Linked DNA regions of Homo sapiens: region 2 is linked to region 1. The links come from fine-mapping of genetic effects on gene expression. Tissue or cell type: whole blood. Region 1 holds a variant in brackets; the other region holds the start of a gene. All regions are shown on one strand. Distances are from middle to middle.

The links. PIP is the estimated chance that this variant, and not a neighbour inherited with it, causes the effect.
Region 2: ANXA2R starts here. The variant in region 1 is fine-mapped to the expression of ANXA2R in whole blood (TOPMed, PIP above 0.99).

The regions. Positions count from the first base shown.
Region 1 is chr5:43,013,357-43,021,691 of GRCh38, reverse strand. ANXA2R-OT1 (ANXA2R overlapping transcript 1) reads left to right here. Exons shown (of 3, transcript NR_104651.1): 3 at 6,542-6,963. It overlaps LOC105374748 (a long non-coding RNA gene), which reads right to left and starts at 3,547. Exons shown (of 3, transcript NR_188279.1): 1 at 3,020-3,547; 2 at 2,376-2,456. RefSeq lists enhancers at 1,262-1,311, 3,379-3,518, 3,058-3,580, 3,979-4,218, 6,005-6,054. The variant A/G (reference allele first, on the strand shown) is at 3,446.
Region 2 is chr5:43,037,165-43,045,437 of GRCh38, reverse strand. ANXA2R (annexin A2 receptor) reads left to right here and starts at 5,119. Exons shown (of 1, transcript NM_001014279.3): 1 at 5,119-6,067. The coding sequence starts at 5,392. The coding sequence ends at 5,973. All of the region lies in intron 2 of ANXA2R-OT1 (ANXA2R overlapping transcript 1), which reads left to right. It overlaps ANXA2R-AS1 (ANXA2R antisense RNA 1), which reads right to left and starts at 3,304. Exons shown (of 2, transcript NR_015447.1): 1 at 1,871-3,304; 2 at 170-995. RefSeq lists enhancers at 622-1,121, 1,841-1,890, 1,698-2,233, 2,261-2,460, 2,541-2,750 and 7 more and a silencer at 4,856-5,125.

The sequences.
Region 1 (8,335 bases):
CAAAACTAAACCATCTTTGTAAAGCTGATGAAAGCCCACCAGGTTAGGAGGATGAGAAGGGCCTGATTTCTGCTAAGATGTGGGCATAGTTAAAGGATTACCAGCCTTTATTCCAGAGGTCACAAGATTTGCAACTTCCCTAATTACTAGAACCTAGGTTTGGCTTTTTGAGATGACTTTTCAGACTTTGATGGCCCCAACAGCATCAGCCACTCCTCTGTGGCCGCCACTCAAGAAATGGACTGAGTGCAGGAGGACTGTTTTCCACACCCCTGTGATTGTTCCTCAGCTGAGCAGCAGCACCCTTCTGCCAAACTATCCTTGAAAAACCTTGGCTTCTGAATTTTCTGGGAGGCTGATTTGAGTAATAATAAAATTCAGGTCTCCAATTTAGCCAACTCTGCCCATATTAAACTCTTTATTGCAATTCGCTGTCTTGACAAATCAACTCTATCTGGGCAACAGGCAAAATGAACATATGGGCCAGTTACAGTTATGTCCCTGTCAACCATTATTATAGACTGTGAATATCAGGTGTTTACCTAAGTAAGAACCTTAAGGTTAAATAAATGGATTTTTCTCTTCTGTCAGTAACCCAAGATTTAGCTGTTTTCTTTAAACCAATGATATTAAATGCCTTATTTACCAAAATTACATGAACAAAGATAATTCTGTTTGGGGTTGCATTTATAGATTTATAACCTTCATGCCAAATTTTCACGCCTTATAATATCTAGCAGAGATAAATCAGAAACCGCTGACCAATAAATCTAAACAATAATGTATATTGACAATTCTGAAGACATTTCTAATTTTATTTTACTGATAATTTTAAATGCAGCTTATTTGTCAAAGATTTACTTAAATCAAGTGAACCTGAAAAATCATTTGGGCTTAAAGTTTCTATTTTTCTGATAAAGTATTTAATTGAAGCCACTAACAAGGGCTGGAAAGCAGTCCCAAATTACAGCTGTCCAATGAGTACTCTCCCAGTACTGGATAAAAAGGGAGAGGCCACCGCCCACAACCTTCTGAACCCAGAGCAGGTGGAGGCTGGGGCTTTGGCGCCACCTCTGCGGAATCCCAAGCCCCCTTCGCACAGCCAAGAAAACGTTGCTCCATCGCTTAAGCCTTAGAGCAGGACACAAGCGTTTGTGCTGATCAACGAGGCAGAGCCTTCAGCACTCCCATTAGCCTGGACATTTATGCTTTCCGGAGGCCGTGGGCGGAGGCAAGCCAGGTATTATGAAACTCAATAGTAATGAATGCACAAAAATTAGTAGTCAAAAGAAAAACGATAACATTTTAGAGATTACATAGAACCAAAACAAACTGTAATTCCGACAGATAAACATAGCAAGAAAAGAAACCGAAATAAAACAGACACTAAGCAAACCTTGCAGAGAACTAGCTTTACAGATCGCAGCGCTTCAAGGGCCACGAACCATCTGTTCCAGGAAATGAGCATTACTGCCACCTGAAAACTGTCCGCTAGGGCTCTGAGCTACTTAACGACCGAAAGAGAAACTGGCGGCGCTGGGACTCAGCAAGCGCCGGCACCTAGCGAATAGTGCTGGTGTTGCCAAAAAATACCTGTTTTGGTGCCATAAGTGGTGCTGCCAGAGAGAAACCGTGCTCTTGGGAAACAGCGGTGCTTCCACGCCTAAACATCCTCTTCGGAGGAATGAACCCACTCCGTTTAAATGTGTTGTGTCAGAAAAATGTGTTGAGACATTTTAATGTTTTAATCCTCTTAATGTGTTTAATCCGCTTGCAGTATTTTAACCCGTTTTAATGTGTTGTGACAGAAAAAGCGCCAGCTAACGGTGCTATGAAATTACTAGTGCGTACAGCGGCTCCGTGCAATCACCGTTCTGCACAGTAAAACATGGTTTAGGAAGTTCTTTAGCAGATACTAGCGGTGCGAGAACCAAGAAAGTGACAGCACAGAGAACATAAGGACCTGGCGAATGGGAAACGTCACACTGGGCGCTAAGAACGGTGCCGTAACTGAGAAAACGCTAGTCGGCTCTACTGGCAAAAGCGCTGATGCAAAACCATCAGCTCCGCATACGAAGGAGAGCCACCAGACACAACCTGGCACCTGACAGCAGGGAGACTGAGACCGAGCTCGGCTCCCCGGATCCTGAGAGAATGTAAGTAAAGAAGCAGGAAGCTGAGACGCTCAAAATTAGTAGAAAAAAAATACATAACATTTAAATAAAATCAAAATTAAAAAAATAAAGGCTAAAATGCAAGTAAACATGGAAAGCAAACACATCGGTAACATCGTTCTCAGAGCAAAAGACAAAGAGAGAATTTAAAAATAAGCAAAAATTACAGAGAACCAATCCTAGAAAGAAGAAATTACAAACCTTGCTAAAAGATGCAATCCTACAATTGTGATATCTCTGTCAGATCTAAACCGGTACATGTTACACCTAAGTCTACATTTCCTACGAAAACAAAAACAAAAACAAACAACACCAACAAAAAAAAGCAGTCACGGTTAAACCTTTTTTACTACGACTTAAAAATCGCAGTAGCTGGTCTATTCAGACTTGGTCCACAAGAGGAAAAAGTCGCGTTCGGCAGGACTTGCTATTGCCAAACGGAGCTTGGTAACCAGAAATCGCGTTTGCGGACATTTCCTGACTTCCATGGGAGTTTAAAATACACACAAGCTTAGCTAAGGTGGGACTCAATATTGCGAAAACAAACTTGGTATAAGAGCTCCCAGGCACTGCTAAACTGATCATCGGTAAACCTAAAAAAAATCGCATTCGCGGGTACCCAGATTTCTTTTTCTTTTCTTTTTTTTTTTTTTTTTTTTTTTGAGTTGGAGTCTCGCTCTGTCGCCCAAGCTGGAGTGCAGTGGCGCGATCTCGGCTCACTGCAAGCTCCGCCTCCCGGATTCACGCCATTCTCCTGCCTCAGCCTCCCGAGGAGCTGGGACTACAGGGACCCGCCACCACGCCCGGCTAATTTTTTTGTATTTTTAGTAGAGACGGGGTTTCACCGTGTTAGCCAGGATGGTCTCGATCTCCTGACCTCCTGATCCGCCCGCCTCGGCCTCCCAAAGTGCTGGGATTACAGGCGTGAGCCACCGCGCCCGGCCGGTACTCCGAAGCCCTCAGATCGGCGACCTGGGCGCTGTAGGCACCGAGAAAATACAGGCACCGAGCCAGAAGCAGTGCCGCAACCAAGAGACCTCGGCTTGGCGAAATGGCGGCGTCTGGAGCCTGCGAGTGACGCCAGCTGGTGGGGCTGTCAAGGAGAACATTCGTTACGGCGCAACCAACGGTACTGTCACCAAGAAACCGTCGTCTCTGAGAAAAAAAGAGACGTTCGGCCGCCGAGAAACTCCGTACAAGTGCTGTGACAGAAAAACCGCCGGCTCCGCGCAGCGGCAAAAGAGCCAACGGGAACGCCGGGTGCTGCGACC[A/G]TGACCCCGGCACTGGAGGACGTGGGATGGAGAATGGGACACACGGAGCGAGAAGGGAAACGTTTCGTGCAGACCAACTAGCGCCGCCGCCACCGGAAAACTGACTCGCCAGTGCTGCCAATGAAGTGCGTGTGAGAAACCGATGACTGGTGGGAGGAGCAGCGCTGGGCGCTGGACCCGCGAGTGTGAGAATCTGGCGGCGCTAGGACCCTTCAGGCGCGGGCACGAGGCGAAACCCAGCGCTGTTGCCAAAGACAAATGCGCGTTCTTTTGGGCGCCATCAGCGGTGCAGCCAGTGATCACTCCCAGGCTCTGAGAAACTAGAGATGTCAGCCACAAACCCTCCGTTCAGGGAAAGTTTGCGGCGCCGTGACGGATCGACTGGCACTGGGTGCAACATTGTCTTGTGGCCTAGAGACTAGAATATAAAAACAAAAACCAAATACAAAACTGCTGCTGGCATTACTCCTACTCTCCCCCCTCAAGTCAGTGGCTTCAGGCTTAAGAAAACCTGTATTTTTCTTGGCTGTGCCATAATCCGTAATTACCGAGGCCCCCAGCGACCCACCCAGTGTGATTCGCAGAGGGAAAGGAGCTGGAATAAGGACCGTGAATGGGGCGGATGTGGCTCGTCCTGGGAGAGAGCTAAAGCTTATGCTGGTCGCAAACAGCATTACATTGCAGGAAACTGCTCTTCCAATGGCCGTGGCTGGGTCCTTCCACACCATCCCTCTGCCCTAGACCTTTGTCCCCGTTCAGAGCCATCAGAGATTCTAGGAGAGCTGTCGACAACCGCATCTCTTCGGAACTTGGAAACTCTAGGTTCAAGATCTCCGTGGAGAATGAAAGGCACAGTCGCCTGACCCGGGCATCAGGCTTGCCCCGCACATCAAGTCCCTCCCCTACTGGATGGAACTCTGTGGCAATCGCTCCTTATTCTGATGGTTCACTCTGTCAGATATCCTCGATATTTGGGGATAGTAGTTCAAAAACAGCCGGGGAGGAAAATGGGCTGAAAGATTCCAGCGTTGGATGTAGAATTGACAGCGAGACATACACCTCCTCTCTAAGCCCAGAGAAAAGCTCAAGTTGTGGTTCTCTGTCTCTAGCAGCATGATCTTCAAAATGCATCATTGATTTCTATCTTCTGGGAAATGCAATGCAGGTGAACTTGTAAGTGCTCAAATCCTCCATCTCCTCACTTTTCAGACTGAGGCCTTTTTTTTTTTAAATCTGAGAAGAAATATGGGACTGCCACTGCTCAGTAGGAAAATGTCCTTTCCCACAAGCATTTATATTTTAATAAAAATCTGCACTTTGTGAGTTGAGCCCCCTCAAAGAGACCTACAAACCCTGCCACAAATATCTCCAACCACACTCATCATTTCCGATTTTCATCACTGCTGCTCCTGTGCAAACCAAACTATCCTTTCCCTGGGGCATCCTAGGTAGAGGCCATGCCAGGACAAAGGCAGAGATATGCCTGCCTGGTAAGGAAATCCATTTTGGCCTTGTAATTCTCACCCTCTCCCAAGATGTTTGCCTCAATATCTCCTTCCCACCTTACCCCGTCTTCAGCTAGCCAAAACATTCCCTGGTATTTGAGGCCCTTCCAATTTCCTCCTGGTTTTGTGGGTGGGAGAATAAAGAAAAAACTGCACTGTTCCCACCCACATAGTTACAGCCACTTTATCAAACGGAAGAGCAGTCTGGAGCCATTGCAAAACAAAATACCTGCCACAACTCCTCTCTTCTCATTTCGACTCCAGCTTTTCATCTTAGCAAAAAAGTTGCAATCAGCACCCCCTAGACGGAAGGAATATCCTGTCTTAATGGGAGTCCATAGGAGGCTGCAGGCTGCTCCCCTACAGAGACTAACATCAAGGTAGTTGCAGAATTCAGATTCTAATTACAGTGTGGTTGGAGGCGGGGTGGATTCCAGGGAGGTCAGGAAGAGGTAAAGTACAGAATTGAGCTCCTTGGGAGGAGGTCATAGGAACTTTGCAGTATGAAAATGGCTAGAGATTGGGTAGAATTGAGCAGGCTGGCAATGGCAGTTTTGTGTGGGTGGTAGGACCTAGGATTCAAACTTGAGGGCAAATTGTGGAGCACATACGACAAATGATGTAGAGCCTTTCCTATTTCCCTTCCTGCTGTGTCATCCGAAACAATAAATAATAAAGAATTAACAAAGACTGATATTTTTGTTCAATTTCATGAAGAAAAATCTCATCAAACTAAGATAACTATAATGACAAATCTTGTTAGAATATTATTAACCAAATGAAAGTGACACAAAACAGAAAAACGGTGGGAGGTGGGAGGGCCAAGAAAGAAAAAGTCCCCAACACTCAGGTGGTGTGTACAGGTGAATCTTCTGGTCAGTTGGTATGTTGCAGAAAGCTGGGCAACTAATAAATTAGGAGGCAGGAATTCATATGAATACTTTCCTGATACAGAGAAACTCTTGGTTTTAACAATCTACTTCTTTGTCAGGTATTGGTTCTTGATTTTAGGCTCAGAAAAGATGGTAACAGTTATAACTGTAGTAGAGCAGGTAAAAACAAAGATCATGCAGGAGTCTAGACAGAAAGTAAAAGGCAAAAATGTCCCAGGGTAAGTAATCTAGAGTAAGAAAGTGAAGAATTCTGCTTGGTGCCAACGGAGGGCTCCACCATGCCTCTGGTTCACCTACAAAAAATGAACCATTTGCTGTTGGTCTCTGGGATTGAAGATTCACCCTCCCAATTTCCTGCCTGTCCTAAGCTTACCTGTAACTTAGAGGGTTTTGTGTCTGTTTTTTTGTTTGTTTTGTCTGTTTGTTTTGTAAAACACTCTCTACAAATGTTTGATAGATTATAAACCGCAGGATCCACTAGACCCTGCAAGGTGCAGGGGAGCCCTGTGACTACCACTCCAATGCACCTCCACACATGTTCTTCCTCCTAGTTCCTCCACAGAATTTCTTCTTCCTGGTTCCATTTGCTGTAGTAATTTGGGGCTGTATTCACTGACAAGTTCCAAAAGTTTACCCAATTTTGGTGACCGATAAACTCTTGACTAACAATTATGTGTGTGTGTTTGTCTTTCCTGTAGGAGGAAATCAGTGGTGCTTCAGGATATTGTGAATTTGGTCTTCTGAAAGCAGAATTCTGATTTAACAGTATAATGGAATTCGTGAACGTCATGATGCTAATTTGAACCAACAAGCACCCTTGTGAGAGGAATCTGCTTTTCCTCAAGTCTGAAGAACACCAGGAGAATCTTTCTGTATGGAGTTACCAGGAATCCTCTGCTAAGGAAAGTGAAAGGGAAGATGCAATTTCTCCTGGGAAGGGGGGATGCTGATGTAGAGGGTGACAAGTAATATGCCATGAAGGATTCAGTCACCTGGTTAGATTTAGAGTTAGAGTTATGGTTAAGGAAGAAGGAAGGAAAAAAGGCAGAAGAGGAAGAAAGGAAGCAAGAAAAGATAAAATTTATTCTAAGATAAAATTTGTGAATTTTGCTAAACTATATATATTTATTTATTTATTTATTTTATTTATTTATTTATTTTTGCTGTCATTAGCCAAGATAAGGAATCTTCAAGTTGAGTAAGACTGGATTTAGAATTGTCTGGGGGCTTTCAAAAGAGCCATTCAGTAAATAAGAAAGAATACAGGCCTGCAGCACCAGAGTCTGAGCTGGGGGCATAGGTTTGTGTGAATTTGGGCATGGTGGCTCAGGTCTGTAATCCCAGCACTTTGGGAGGCTGAAGTTGAGGACTGCTTGAGCTCAGGAGTCTGAGACCACCCTGGGCAACATGGGGAGACCCCATCTCTACAAAAAAATAAAAAATATTAACCCAAGGTGGTGGCATGCACCTTGCTGCCAGCTACTGTGGAGGCTGAGGTGAGAGGATTGTTTAAGTCCAGGATGTTGAGACTGCAGTGAGCCCTGTTTGTGGCACTGCACTCCTGCCTGGTCCACAGAGGGAGACTCTGTCTGAAGGTGGGGAAAGAAAAGATTTGTATGAATTTGGTGCTGCTTTGTATTTCAAAATAGGAAAGTGGATATACGAATATATGGCATAAAAGGTCCAGATACTGGACCCCAGTGAACTCAATTGTTTTCAAGGTCTGACTTTAACCTTGCTAGGCTGAAGAATCTGGAATGGCTCAGATGTTTCTAGTTCAGCTGTAACTTTTGCCTCCTTTAGAGTAAAGCTGTGGGGGACTTGAGTATACTCAGAGTGGATCTGAGAGGTATCTGCTTCCAGAATGAATTAGAATTCCTGGATTTGAATCATAATCAGATGGCTGTTAAGGGGTTATTGAAGACATATGGCTCTTAAGTTCACAATATTGAATTCAGGTGAATATTATAAATATTTGTAAGTTGGATTATATTATTGAAGCACTTGGTAAAAATTGCCATGCAGGGATAAATGTAGGAAGGGGATTGCAGAGTCTGATATCTAAAAAATAAGTGGAGCAGCATTTGGAAACCCCGTTCACATTTTCAATCTCTTTTCTCTCATTAGAACCTAACTGCTATCCTCTAATCCCTACTTTTGAAAAAATGTATTTAAGGCTGGGCGTGGTGGCTCACGCCTGTAATCCCAGCACTTTGGAAGGCCGAAGTGGGTGGATCACGAGGTCAGGAGATCGAGACCATCCTGGCTAACATGGTGAAACCCCATCTCTACTAAAAATACAAAAAATTAGCCGGGCGTTGTGGTGGGCACCTGTAGTCCTAGCTACTCGGGAGGCTGAGGCAGGAGAATGGCGTGAACCCAGGAGGCAGAGCTTGTAGTGAGCTGAGATCGCGCCACTGCACTCCAGCCTGGGCGACAGAGCGAGACTCCGTCTCAGAAAAAAAAAAAAAGAAAAAATGTATTTAAAAACT
Region 2 (8,273 bases), 24 kb before region 1:
AAGGCTCTACCTAGGCTGTACCATCTGGTGAAGTGCTTGTAACTTTTAAGGTGGAAACGATGCCATTTTTCCTTTATTCTCCCGTCTGTAAGACCAGAAGGCAATTGGAGGATCCTCAAATACCAGGGAGAAACCAGGTAGCAGAAGAAGTAGTATGGTGGGAGGGGAAGATCAAAGCAAACGCCTGGGGAGTGAGTGACAATTGCGACCCCAAATTGGGTCTCCTGACTTGTCAAGGCCCTTCTCTGGGCTCCTCTGCACCTGTCCTCTGCCCAGGTTGATCCAGAAAAGGATGGAATTGGTTGCATGGTGTTTTCAGGATCCGATTGGGAGATGATGCGTTCGCGTGGGAACGCTCCTGGTAGGGTCTGTAAGCCTCTTAGGGGGATTACATCTGGATGTATAATTTTTTTTGGGAAATGTGAAAGCTTATGGGAAAAATACGTTTTACTTCCAAGCAGTGGCAGTTCCTTATTTCCTATGAGGAAGGAGTTTATAGCCCCACTCTTGACTGAAAAGTGTGAGAGACAATTCAAGCGCTTGAAAATTCACCTGTTTTGCATTTCCGGAAAGACAGAGAAAGCGTCAGTGATCCATTTCACAGATCAAGGGTATAGGAAAGTGGATGGCACTTTGAGATGTTCATTAGGTTTGGAGAGGGAGCAGACATCTGCCAGCAATCCCACCTCTTGTGCTGGAGTCTTGCAGTTCATTTTTCTCTCCTGCCCTCTTCCAAATCCTATGTCCAATATCAAGGATATCTGACAGTTAACCATCAGAATCAACGAGCGTTCCCACAGAGTTCCGTCCTGCAGGAGAGGTACCGGGACAGGGGCGGGAGACCTGAAGCTGCGATCAGAAAACGCTGTGCCTTTTACGCTCCTAAGGAACCTTAGACCGAGAGTTTCAAGTTTCAAAGGCAAGCAGTTGTTGGCCCCTCCTGTAGGATCCTGTGGGCTCTGGACCGGGAAGAGAGCCTGGCAGCGAGGGGTGACCTGGAAAAGCCCAGTCACAGAGGGTGGATGGCTGTTTCCTGCGTAGGAAGCTGTTGGCGACCAGAATGGTTTATACTTTGTTCCTGGGACCAACAGGATCTGCTTGGTTCTCGGCGCATAAGCCCACTACTCTCCCCCTGCGTAATGCACTGGGTGGAATGCAAGAACAATACAGACTTCCTGCGGGCCTCGGTGGCCCACGCCTGTGATCCCAGCACTTTGGGAGGCCCAGGCGGGCGAATCGCTTGAGCTCAGGAGTTCGAGACCAGCCTGGGCAACATAGCGAGACCGCCGTCACTAATATATATATATTTATATATATATATTTCATATATAATATATATTTTATATATAATATATATTTTATATATAATATATATTTTATATATAATATATATTTTATATTTTATATACTATATAAAATATATTATATATAATATATTATATATAATATATTATATATCTTATATATTATATATTATATATAATATATTTTATATATTATATACTATATTTTATATATTTTATATATTATATATAATATATTATATATTATATATTATATATAATATATTATATATATTATATATAATATATAATATATAATATATTATATATATTATATATAATATATTTTATATATAATATATATATTATATATTATATATATATTATATAATATATATATTATATAATATATATATTATATATAATATATAAATAAATATATATTTATATATTTTATATAATATATAAAAATATATATTTATATTTATATATTTATTTATATTATATATAAATATAAAATATATATTTTAATATATATATTTATATATATAAATATATATAAATTAGACGGGGGTGGTAGCACTCACCTGTGGTCTCGGCTACTCTAGAGGCTGAAGCGGGAGGATCGCTGGATCCCAGGAAGTCGAGGCTGCACTGAGCCAAGATGACACCACTGCACCAGCCTAGGCGACAGAGGAAAAAAGAAAAGAAAAAGACATCAGACTTCCCTAAGCCCGTGGGGGACAGAGTGGGTAGAGCCAGTAGCACTTTGGTGGCACCGAGCGCGCAGTTGGTCGGTCGCTGCACCGTTCCTTTCCCAGCGCCGGCTGTTTCTCACTGGCAACGCCACGCCTTTGTCAGCGTTATCGGACGCTCTCTGGCGGCAACCTTCTCACGGCCAAAAATTATCTTTTGCAACTGCACAGACATTTGCTACGGGCAGCTGATCGCTGGGTCCCAGCGCCGCTGGTTTCACAATTTCGCGGGTGCCCCCCACCATCCCCAGCCCGCAGCATAATCGGTGAAGGGAGCCTGCGGTTTCTCCGCCGCGCCTTCGCCCGTTGCGTCCTGCGAAGCCAGTGGAATCGGTGGTCACAAGGTTGGTTTCACCAAGTCGGGCGTTTCTTGGCACTGGCACCGCTCTGCGCTTTTGCTGGCCCAGGCCGGTCTCAGCACCGTTAGGTGCTCTCTAAAGGCGACTGTCTGTCGTGGTTAGGAAAGCTGCTATGGGACGACAGTTTTTTAGAAGTTTCTAGTCTAGCCCAGCTGGCGGTTTCTGGATCGCAGAACCACTGATTGCGCGGAGCTGGATGTACTTCTGTGGCCGCGCATGTTTCTCTGTGGTATCCCTACGGCTGTCGTCGAAATCGCGGTGTTTCTCTGGCCCCACCGCCACGTGGGCAACTTCTTCAGTGGCTGCGGGGTTCTCTCCACTGAGTTGCTGGTTTTGATCCACGCTTTCTCCCAGAGAGCAGACGAGACACTTTTCTGTTTGTGTCAACTGCTAGTCGTGCTGTGCACAGTTTCCTCGTCTCGGTGCGGGGCTTTCTCCATCCGAGGCCCTCTAGTGCCGGCTTCGCGGTCGCAGCACCCGGCGTTTCCGTTGGCTCTTTCGCCAGCGGCGCGAAGCCGGCGGTTTTGCTGTCACAGCACTTGCTGCACGGAGTTTCTCGGTAGCCGAACTTCTCTTTTTTTCTCAGAGTCGACGGTTTCTTGGTGACGGCACCGCTGGTTGCGCCAAAACAAATGTTGTCCTTGACAACCCCGCCGGCTGCATTCCCTTTCAGGCTCCTGGCACCGCCATTTCGGCGAGCCGTGGTCTCTTGTTCACAGCTCTGTGCCTCCATTTCTCGGTGGCGGCAGCCCTCAGGCCGCGGATCTGAGAGATTTAAAGTCGCAGCTGCCCCCGTTGCGCCGAGTCTGGCGTTGCCGGATGGGTGCTGCAGGGCTGGGCGGGGGGAGCCCGACGCTCCTTGGAGCCGGTGACAGGGGAGCTGCAGGGGCACAGTCTCTTCCCAGCGCCGCCGCACGGGTTCCGGCTCGGCCTCCAGAACGCAGTCCTGTGGCGGCGCCGCCGGCGTCTCTGTCGCAGGACCCCACGGTTTCGCGCGTCGTTGGCTTCTTAGTCCTAGCAAGTTTCGATTTCGCGGTGCCTGGGATTTCCACCCTCTGTCCAAGTAGGGGAATAGCCAAAATGTATTTTCTCAGCCCAAGCAAGTCCTGACTTAAGACAAACACCGGTCTAGCCCTGGCTGCGATATCTAGGCCGTAGGAACTCACCCGTTTCCCCATGCGAAGGCGAAGTTACCCTGTGACTCGTTGGTCAGCAGCTCCGGGTTTCCAGTGGCCTCGGATTTCTAATCATAACAACCATGGGGTCAGCCTAGCCTCAAGTTTCTTAGTCCTAGCAAGTTCCGGTTTCCTACTGGTAAGACTTGCTTTAGCTGCGCAGGAAATGTTTAACTCCTGTGGAAATCTGGGTACCAGCGAATGCTTTTTTTTTTTTTTTAAAGGTTTAGCGATGACCAGTTTAGCAGTGTTGGGAGCTCTTATACCAAGTTTGGTTTCGCAATATCGAGTCCTGTCTTAGCTATGCTTGTGTGTTTTTAAAACTCCCGTGGAAGTCAGGAAATGCCGGCGATCGCGATGTCTCAGTTTTACCAAGCTCCCTTTGACAATAGCAAGTCCTGCCCATCGAGACTTTTTCCTCTTGTAGACCAAATCGGGATGTACCAGCTACTACGATTTTTTAGACGTAGCTAAACACGTTTAACCGTGGATATTTTTGTTTTTTTTCTCGTAGGAAATTATGACAGGAGCAACCTGCAGGGGTTTAGATCTGACAGAAATATTCTAATGGTAGGCATTGCATCGCTTAGCCATATTTGTAATTTCTTCTTTGTAGGGTTGGTTCTCTGTAACTTTTGCTTACCTTAAAATTATTTTTGTGTCTTGCTCTGAGGACAATGTTACCGATGTGTTTTTCATTTTTACTTGCATTTCAGACTTTCATTATTTTAAATTATGTATTTTTTTTTTCTTCTAATTTTGAGCGTCTCAGATTCGTGCTTCTTGACTTTCATTCTCTCAGGAGCCGGGGAGCCGAGCTCGGTCTTAGCCTCGCTGGTATCAGGTTCCGGGTTCTGTCTGGAGGCTCCGCTTCCTATGCAGAGCTGGCGGTTTTGTATCAGCACGTTTGCCAGTGGCGCCCACTGGGCGTTTTCTCAGTTGCTGCACCCAACGTGACATTTCCCGTTCGCGGGGTCCTTAGGTTCTCAGTGCTGTCACTTTTTCGCTCCTACAACCGCTAGTATCTCCTAGGAACTTCCTGAACCCCGTTTTGCCGTGCAGAACGGTGATTGCACCGAGCCGCTGTTCGCACTAGTAATTGTGTGGTACCATTAGCCGGCGCTTTTTCTGTCACAACCCATTAAAACGGGTTAAAACATATTAAACCTATCAAACACATTGAACGGATTAAAACACATTAAATGCCGCAACACATTTTTCTGGTACAACACATTGAAACAGAGTTGGTTCATTCCTCCAAACAGGTTGTTTAGGTGTGGAAGCACCGCTCTTAGTTCTAAGAGCATGCTGTTTCTCTTTAGCAGCACCCTTTACGGCGCCAAAACGGATATTTGTTTGGCAATACCAGCGCTATCCGCTAGGTGCCGGCGCTTGCTAAGTTCAACGCGCCAGTTTCTCGTTTGCAAGGTGGTTAGGGCAGAGCCCTAGCAGACAGTTTTCCGGTGGCAGCAACGCTCATTTCCCGGAAACGGGTGGTTCTTGGCCCTTGCGCGCTCTTGAATACCTGCGTTCTGTAGCGCTAGTTCTCTTCAAGATTTGCTTAGTGTCATTTCATTTCGGTTTCTTTTCTCGCCATGTTTTTCTGTCGGAATTACGGTTCGTTTTGGTTCTATGTACTCTCTAAAATGTTATCGTTTTTCATTTGTCTACTAATTTTCGTGCATTTGTTACTACTGAGTTTCTTAATATCTGACTGGCCTCCGCCCACGGGCTCTGCAGAGCATAAATACTCAGGCTGATGGTAGTGCAGAGACTCTCCCTCCTTGATCAGCGCAAACGTTGGTCTGAGGCTTGAGGGATGGAGCAACATTTTCTTGGCTGTGTGAAGCGGGCTTGGGATTCCGCAGAGGTGGCGCCAGAGCCCCAGCCTCCACCTATTGTGAGTTCAGAAGATCGTGGGCCGTGGCCTCTTCCTTTGTATCCAGTACTAGGAGAGTACTCACTGGACAGCTGTGATTTGGGACTGCTTTCCAGCCCTTGCTGGCGGCTGCCCGGAGTCTACTGGCAAAACGGACTCTCTCCTGGAGTCCAGAGCACCTTGGAACCAAGTACAGCGAAGCCCACTGAGTTCAGTTGGCCGGGGACACAGAAGCAGCAAGAGGCACCCGTAGAAGAGGTGGGGCAGGCAGAGGAACCCGACAGACTCAGGCTCCAGCAGCTTCCCTGGAGCAGTCCTCTCCATCCCTGGGACAGACAGCAGGACACCGAGGTCTGTGACAGCGGGTGCCTTTTGGAACGCCGCCATCCTCCTGCCCTCCAGCCGTGGCGCCACCTCCCGGGTTTCTCAGACTGCCTGGAGTGGATTCTTCGCGTTGGTTTTGCCGCGTTCTCTGTACTCTGGGCGTGCTGTTCACGGATCTGTGGAGCTAAGCAGCCTTAGATAGCAGCAGAAGGCTTTTTGGATTCTCCTCCTTGAAAAGATTCTCAGTTACCAAACGTCTCCACCTAGAAAATAAAAATACATTAAGATGTGCTTTCATTGCTGGTTGTCAGTTTTTAAATTCTCTTTTTCCCTTATGTTTCTTTCTTGTTTCGCGTCGCTTATTACTTTCAGTTTCCTTGTATTTTAAATATTTGTATTTATTTCATTAAATATTTCATTCGTATCTGTTTTCACTTTGAGAAATCTATTTTACGATTGTAGAATTCTTAGAGTTTTTGGCAAATTTAAAATTTGTTTTTTTCCATTGTATTTTAAAATCTTATTCCTACTATTTTTCTAATTATTGCTTTTTAAATGTATTGTTTGTTTACATTTAATTTTATATCATGTCTTTTACGTTATTATAACGTCTTTTTAATTTTAATTGTTAATTTTATTTTTAACAGCGGTCTTTCTTTTTTTCAGTATATCGATTCATTGTTTTACACTCAGGAATTTTATTCACGATCATAAGACTGAGAGGTTTATCAATCTTTGCTATTTCTCGTGGAAGGACCACGCAATTACTTATATTAATACAACTTCACAGATGACCAGTTCTTAAGATTACTTATTCTGGCGGGGCAGCGTGGCTCACGGCAGTAATCCCAGCACTTTCAGCAGCGGAGGCATGCGGATTGCTTGAGCTCAGGAGTTTGAGAAAAGCCTGGGCGACAGGGTGAGGCCTGTGTCTACAAAAAATGCAAAAGTTAGCCCTGTGAGATGGTGTGCACCTGTAGTCCCAGCTGCTCCGGAGGCTGGGGTGGGCGGGTTGCTTGAGCTCAGGAGGTCGAGGCTGCGGTGAGCCGGATAGCACCAACGCCCTCCAGCAGAGCGAGAGCCTGTCTCAAAATAAATAAATAATTGAAAAGACTACTTATTCATGGGTCTCAGGGCTAGCAGTGTTTCCAGCGTCTTTTTCTTTGGAACAGTTTAGCTTGGCTTATAAGAGAACTACCAGTTACTTAATGGTACCACAACTGGGTTTAGCAATTCGGGTAGGCACAGCAGGTCCGGCTTGGCCCTGCCTGCTTTGACTGCCTTTTCGGGAGTTTTAAACCTCCTACACTCGGAATGTAGCCCTGATTGTGGTTTCTCTGCATAGCAAGTTCGGACTTAAGCGGAATAAGTATCGGCTTATTTCGCCTGCGATAAAGATGCTTAATTCTGCGTTCGAAATATTCTGAGCGAGTCCTGGGTTAGGGATTTCTTAGAGTAACAAGTGCATGCTTCGATTTTAAGTGCCCCTGTGAATGTGATTTCTTAGCTCTTGCAAGTCCATATTTGGTCGCAACCAGTACTAGCATAGCCATGCCTGCGACTCCTTAGTCCCAGTAACTTTCGGTTTCATAATAACTTACCCTGCTTTACTTATGCCTGAGTTTTAAATATAGAAGTCCGGGCACGTAGGTGAAGAAGATATTTTAGGAGTAGCAAGTAGCGGTTTAGCAGTGTCTGCAGTCCCTTAGTTAGAAGTCCTGGTGAGACCGAGCAGATACTGATATAGGCCTGACAGCGATATTACCTCTGTGAAACCACATTGTTTAGAAGTGTTTGCATTTTCTTCTTTGTAGAGTCCATTTTTCCATGTTTTGCTTAGTTTTGAATTTTCATTTGATGAATCTTCCCAAATGTATTGTTTTTATTGTGTGTGCGTGTGTTTTTCAGCTAACTTGCCCTTTAAAAAAAAATTGTTCCTAATTTTTGTTTTGCTGACCCTCAGCTTTATGCTGTCTGGTTTGCGCTGGCCTGTAATTCCCGGAACTAAATATTCTATTCTTTTGGCCTAACTGGCCTTTCGTCGATGGCATTACTGCTAGTTTTGCCGCTCTAGGTGCTCCTCGGTGTTAGCACTGCCGGTTGCTTCTGTGAGGCTTGCTAGAGCCCAGGACGCTGAGGTGCTGGGTGACCCCGTTTCGGTGCAACCACTCCGAAGGTTCTCGGTTTATCCAGCTGTGTTTTGGAACAAATGCCAATTCTTCCTGGGAGCAAGTGTCTTTCAGTCGCGTTCCTGGCTGTTTTCTTCAAAAGCAGGCGTTTCTCCTGGTAGCACCGCTTGTTGGCGACGTCGGATTCTTTTCCGTGGCAGTACTGGTCGTTTCATGGAGTGGCCGGTTTCTCACTCGCACTGTGCCGGCTGGCAGTTATTCCGTGGAGGCGCAGCTCTCAGCCGCTTCCCTTGGTTCTCGGTGTCGGCTGTCCCTGTACCTGCGTTTGTGGCGGTATTTCTGTCACAATCGAGTCTGTGTTTTTTCGAT